2 separate regions of the Homo sapiens genome follow, and region 2 is linked to region 1. Evidence: fine-mapped expression QTL. Tissue or cell type: whole blood. Region 1 holds a variant in brackets; the other region holds the start of a gene. All regions are shown on one strand. Distances are between the middles of the regions.

Evidence for each region. PIP is the estimated chance that this variant, and not a neighbour inherited with it, causes the effect.
Region 2: it holds the start of ZFX, and the variant in region 1 is fine-mapped to the expression of ZFX in whole blood (TOPMed, PIP above 0.99). The same link has a PIP of 0.9 or more in T cells, blood mononuclear cells, lung, monocytes and nasal epithelium.

What each region holds. Positions count from the first base shown.
Region 1 is chrX:24,211,422-24,214,051 of GRCh38, forward strand. ZFX (zinc finger protein X-linked) reads left to right here. Exons shown (of 10, transcript NM_003410.4): 10 at 1-2,630. Among named protein-coding and RNA genes, the nearest start is that of ZFX, 63 kb to the left of the region's middle. The variant T/G (reference allele first, on the strand shown) is at 1,471.
Region 2 is chrX:24,148,181-24,150,884 of GRCh38, forward strand. ZFX (zinc finger protein X-linked) reads left to right here and starts at 1,549. Exons shown (of 10, transcript NM_003410.4): 1 at 1,549-1,614. ZFX-AS1 (ZFX antisense RNA 1) reads right to left here and starts at 1,474. Exons shown (of 3, transcript NR_046657.1): 1 at 1,375-1,474; 2 at 573-662. RefSeq lists enhancers at 886-985, 1,192-2,005 and silencers at 1,096-1,455, 1,516-1,925, 1,946-1,995, 2,046-2,555.

The DNA of each region.
Region 1 (2,630 bases):
AAAATTCATTTTAAAGCCAATCAGTCTCATTCACATACAATACTGTATATTGATTTATGCTGTGTACAAATAGAATTATTACTTCTAGTTGACTTTTTTTTAAATATACATTTTGCTCAGTAGTGTGTTCTGAATTCTATTCAGTTTGTTTAATAAATAGGGAAAACTGGCAACATGCTAGTTACTTTTAATAAAGTAATCCCTGATTCTATACCGAAGTTTTATATCTTAGAATTTTATATTTATTTAAATATTTACCTTGCTTACCTTGATGGTACTCTTCTAAGACCATTAACTTAAGGTAACTTTATATTGGTAACTCTGAAAGTATTCATGTTGACTCATTTTTTTCCCCATACATTTCTCACAATAAAATTGTCAGAGACATCTACTAATATAAATGGGAGATTTTACAGTCAGGTCTAATTATCATAACATGGAAGTCATTTACTTGTCTTGCTTAATATTTTCAGACCACTTGACAGTGAAAGTTTCCATTTGAGCTGTTGCGTCCCTGGCTTTGCTGAGTAAAGAGCAGTGGCTGGGTTCGTGTTTACTTTTCAAATATACTTCTTTTGGCTTTCTTTGGATTATTTACATCTTTTGTCAGCGTAGCAAACTTTTAGAAAACCTTATTGAAAAACTGTGCTTGCTCATGTTGTATTTTGATTATTCTGTCTGTGCGGCTTCATCTTGGAATGGTTGTGTGCTACAAATGACACTTACTGAGGACTGCATTTTGGAATCTCCTAGAGGTAACTCATGGCTTATAGGATCTTTTGCAACTTTATGTATGTAAATGTACCCTGAATTATATATATACACATATATATCATGTACCTGTGTGTATTGCTTATTTTACATATTTATACACACAACCCCAAGTAGTAGTTGTTTAAAATCTATAATGAAAAGTATTAAATTTACAATAACATGAAAGATCCAGGGATGCATGAGAGAGCATTTTGTAAGTCATGCTCTTCAGAGAGACTACTCAGGTGAAGAATTAGAAGGAAAATAAGGACACTAGTATTTTTAAAGAGTAAAGATATTTTCTTTTAAATATCTTTGGTAATTGAAACATAGAGGTTAAGATGTTTCTAGGTAGAATGTTTTCATACAATTTCACCTCCATGTCTTTATGTTTTTCTGAAAAGCAAATGAGTATCCAGACATGACTCCCACAGTTCTCTTTGAGAAGCCTGAGAGGGAACTCTGTCTTACCTAGTGAGGGGGATGGAAAAGAAGTGATGGCTCTGTGGACCAGAGAACGGGTGCTAATTATGACTTCACACTCGGCAAGTTCAGGCTGATCTGTTATTTCTCAGTTACAGTTAGCAAACTTTAAAAACTTAACACTCAAGTTGGCTTTGATTAAAAGGTAAAGATGTGTTTTAAGTGGATAAGGAAAGTCTGAGGCCTTATTTGGAACATCACTAAGTCTTCCACAGGTTTTTTGTTTGTTTGTTT[T/G]TTTTTGTTGTTTTTTTTTCTTAAGACGGAGTCTTGCTCTGTTGCCCAGGCTGGACTGCAGTGGTGTGATCACTGCAACCTCTGCAGCTCACTGCAACCTCTGCTTCCTGGGTTCAAGCAATTATCTGCCTCAGCCTCTCGAGTAGCTGGGATTACAGGCGCCCACCACCACGCCCGGCTAATTTTTTGTATTTTTAATAGAGATGGGGTTTCACCATCTTGGCCAGGCTGGTCTTGAACCCTGACCTCGTGATCCACCTGCCTCGGCCTTCCATAGTGCTGGGTTTACAGGCGTGAGCCACCGTGCCCAGACACCACATAGGTCTGAATCAGTGTCATACATTCATAAAACAAACTCGGTTAATTAGAACTTGGTTATGTTAAGACGAATCTGGGAGAACAGAAAACAGTTTTTGGGGTCCCTTCAGTTGGCTATTGGTCCGTATGCATCTAGCACATTGTAGGAGATTTAGAAATTGTCTTCCCACCCGATAGCTGCCTTGTCACCTCATTATGGTGCTCCATCCCCTGTGTGCTTAGGTTTTTACCTTTCATCTTTCTCTTTGCCATTGATGTTTGTATTCAAGAGTTATATTTTTAGGGTTAGAAATCAAAATATTTGGTGTTTGGCAAACCTCTGAAGTGCTAGACTGATTTAGTCTAGTTTTAAACCAAGTGCTTTAGGCAGGTGTGAACTCCAGCCCAAATGCCAGTCAAAGTCAAGGCATGGGTTTTCCTAGCCTATCTTATAGGAAATTCCTGTACCTTCTTGGCCCCCATAATGTGTTTTTTTTTTTTTTTTTTTTTTAAACTAACTTACAATTTTGTGATCCGTGATTCATTGCCCTGCGATTCTTGAAAGCTCTGTCTGTTTTTTTGTGAGAACCTTTAAAATCTCCCTTAATTTTTATTTTCCCAGAAATAATGTAAAAACACTTAAATGAAAGTGGAAATGTATTAATTTTAAATCCTATAAAATTAATACAGAAAATATAAATGATTGGGTCATTTAACTATATTTTTTTAAATAAACTGAAAGATAAAGAACACAACACTTCACACATTTTATATTTCTCTTACATACTCCGGAATCATACACAGTTCTTTTTAAAGCACAACATTAAAACCTTTAAAAGGTATTTAAGGGTTTGGTCAAGTGA
Region 2 (2,704 bases), 63 kb before region 1:
GCTGTTACTATTTTTGAAAGGAAATTTAATCGCTTGGAAAAATTCAGACTAAAGCCCCGAGAGGAAAATTATCATCCAGTGCATGCTCAGAGATTTCTTCTTACTCTACTTTTGTTTTTCCTTTTTGAAAGCATTTGTGATTGAGAGATGTCTGAGGGAAGGGACAAATTGCATTCTGGGAGTTTTAAAGAGTTATGTCAGGCAACTAAAATACGTGGCCTCTGTATTTAAAGAGATTTCACACCAGTATACTATTTGCTTTATAATTTTTGTGTTTCTTATTGTTTAAAAATGCCTTTAACATTTAGTGCTGTGTTAAAGGATAGCATGCCAGATTCCAGATTAATGTAAAGACTCCACTATTTAACTTTTCCCTAGTAACTTTAAAACAGAGTTTGGGTTCCAAGTTCAGCATGGAAAGATAGCATAAACATTTAAACTAAGTAAAGTGCGAAATACACATTTTTGAAGTTGGTAAGTGCTGTTTAATCATTTTCCCCTTCTCTCCCAAGTCTTTTGAAACTTCAAAAGGCTTGTTTAAGCAGTGTGTTTAAAAAAAAAAAAATCCATACCCAATTGGGCTCCTCTCTATTAAGGAATGTGGAAAATTCATGATTTATGAAACGATGACACCAGTCTTACATTTCACAGGCTCCCAAGCTCTGAAACACGGGTACATAGGAAAATACACAGAAAATTCCTGTTCTTTGCAACGTGCGAAACGTTTCAAAATGCAACTTTGCTCATCTCCCTCCCCCGTACAAACTAATAAAATCAGTTTGGCTCTGACTGCTTATTTTTAAAAAGTAGACGGCCTGGTAGGTGCTCTAGGGATAACCCTTCTCCCCCCACTCCACCCCCCTTCCCGCACACCCATTTAGACTGGCAAGCCCGTTTTCATTTTATTTCAAAGATTTTTTTTTTTTAAGCGAAGGCAGGGGACGGCGGGGGTTGCTAAATTTATCTTCCTCCCCAGCCACGGGGATGAAGAAAACACATTTACTGCGGGCGGGGGTCTGAGGGCCTGCAAACAACTCGAGCTGGAGCCTCGGCCAGGACCGGCGCGAGAGGCGGTAGGTCTCCAGGGAGGCCCCCGGGGGGCGGCCGCGGCCCACGGGACATGGTGGGGGGCGGCCGGGCCGCCTGCCTCTCCGCGGGGTCGGCCGACCGCGGCCCCGCGCGGGCTTTACGGCCGAGGCGGCGGCGGCAGCGGCGCGTGTGTGGCGGCGGCGGGCGGGAGCGCGGAGGAGGTGGAAAGAAGGGGGGCGCTGTCACGGAGACTCCGGCCGCCGGAGACCCCGCCGCAGCGAGGCCACTGGGCTCCCCGGTCGCGGGGCGGGAGCGGCGCCGACACGGGGTGCCAGGAGGACCCACCGGGCGGAGGAGGGGGCCTGTCTACCCTTCCGCATTTTCCTGGGTCTCTCTCCCGGGCGGTGACGTGACGTGCTGACGGCGGGCCCGTGCCGGGGAGCTGGGCCGCTTTTTGTCAGCTCCGAGCTCGGCCCCTCCTCCCTCCCTCCGCCCGCCCCACCAGCCGGAGCCCGGCCCAGTGCTCCAGAGAAAGGCCGGCCTGCAGCACCCGCCACCGTCGCCGGCCGCCCGCACGTCCGTCCGGTGAGTCCCGGGTGCCGCCGCGGCCGCGGGGCCTAGTGCGCGCACAGCGGCCTGGTCTCGGCCTGGTCGGCGGCCCGCAAGGCGCCCTCCCGCGCTAGGCCGGGCGGCGTGGCGCGCGGCGCCGAGCAGGCCCCGAGGAGGCCGCAGTTAGGCCCGGGGAGGAGCCCGGCTGCCCCGAGCGGCGGCGGAGGCGCGCTCCGTAAGCGGGCGGGGGTTGGGGGAGGGTCGCCCGGTTGTGCCGGAGGCGGTCGAGGGGCCCCGGGTCGGCTCCGCGGCCGACCTGGGGCACCGCGCCGGGGTGAGGCCTGGCGAGGAGGCGAAGGCTGCAGGCGTGAGGTGAAGGCCGCAGGCCGGCCGGGCCGATTTTCGCTATGTAAATATCGGTGAGGGGGGGGGAGGGACGGGGGACAAGATGGCGGCGGCTCGGCGCCTGCTGCAGGGGACGATAGAGGGGGTTGCCGGGAGGGGGAGCCGCCATCTTGGAGGCGGTGTCTGGAGAGAAAATTCCGCTACAGCCCGTGAGGGGGGGTGGGAGAGCGGGCGGCGGCGGCAGCGGCGCCGGTGACGGGCCCCGGAGGCCCGGCGCGGCGGCGTGTGCGCGCGGAGGGGCGTGCTCGCTCCCCGTGGCGGCCATTGCCCTTGCCGCCATGATGAGCGCTCGGGCTCCAGGCGCTCGGCGGCAGCGCCACCTTCCTGCCTTGCCTCCCGCAGCCCCGTGACTGGCTGCAGTTTCCGCTGCGTTTCAGCTGAGCTGCCGCAGGCGGCCACCGCCGCCGCCCGGACGCCGGGACCGTTTCACCCTCAGCGCCCCTGGCCCTGCGCCTTCCCCCGCGCCTGTAGCCACCCGAGGGCAGTCGGGGCAGGTGGCATTCCGGACACCTGGGCTTACCAGGGCATACGGGACCCCAGGAAATGTTATTTTTGCTTAAGTCAAATCATATGTGGCTGCTAAGGTGCTTTCGATGCAGTTGTTTTTCCAACAATCTTTGCCGCCCCGAGTATCTGAATAAAGGAAGAAAAATAAAGATTGATGGGAAAGTTTTTGCCATTCTTTTGTCCTATAGGGAAAAAAATTGCACAACACGAGAGC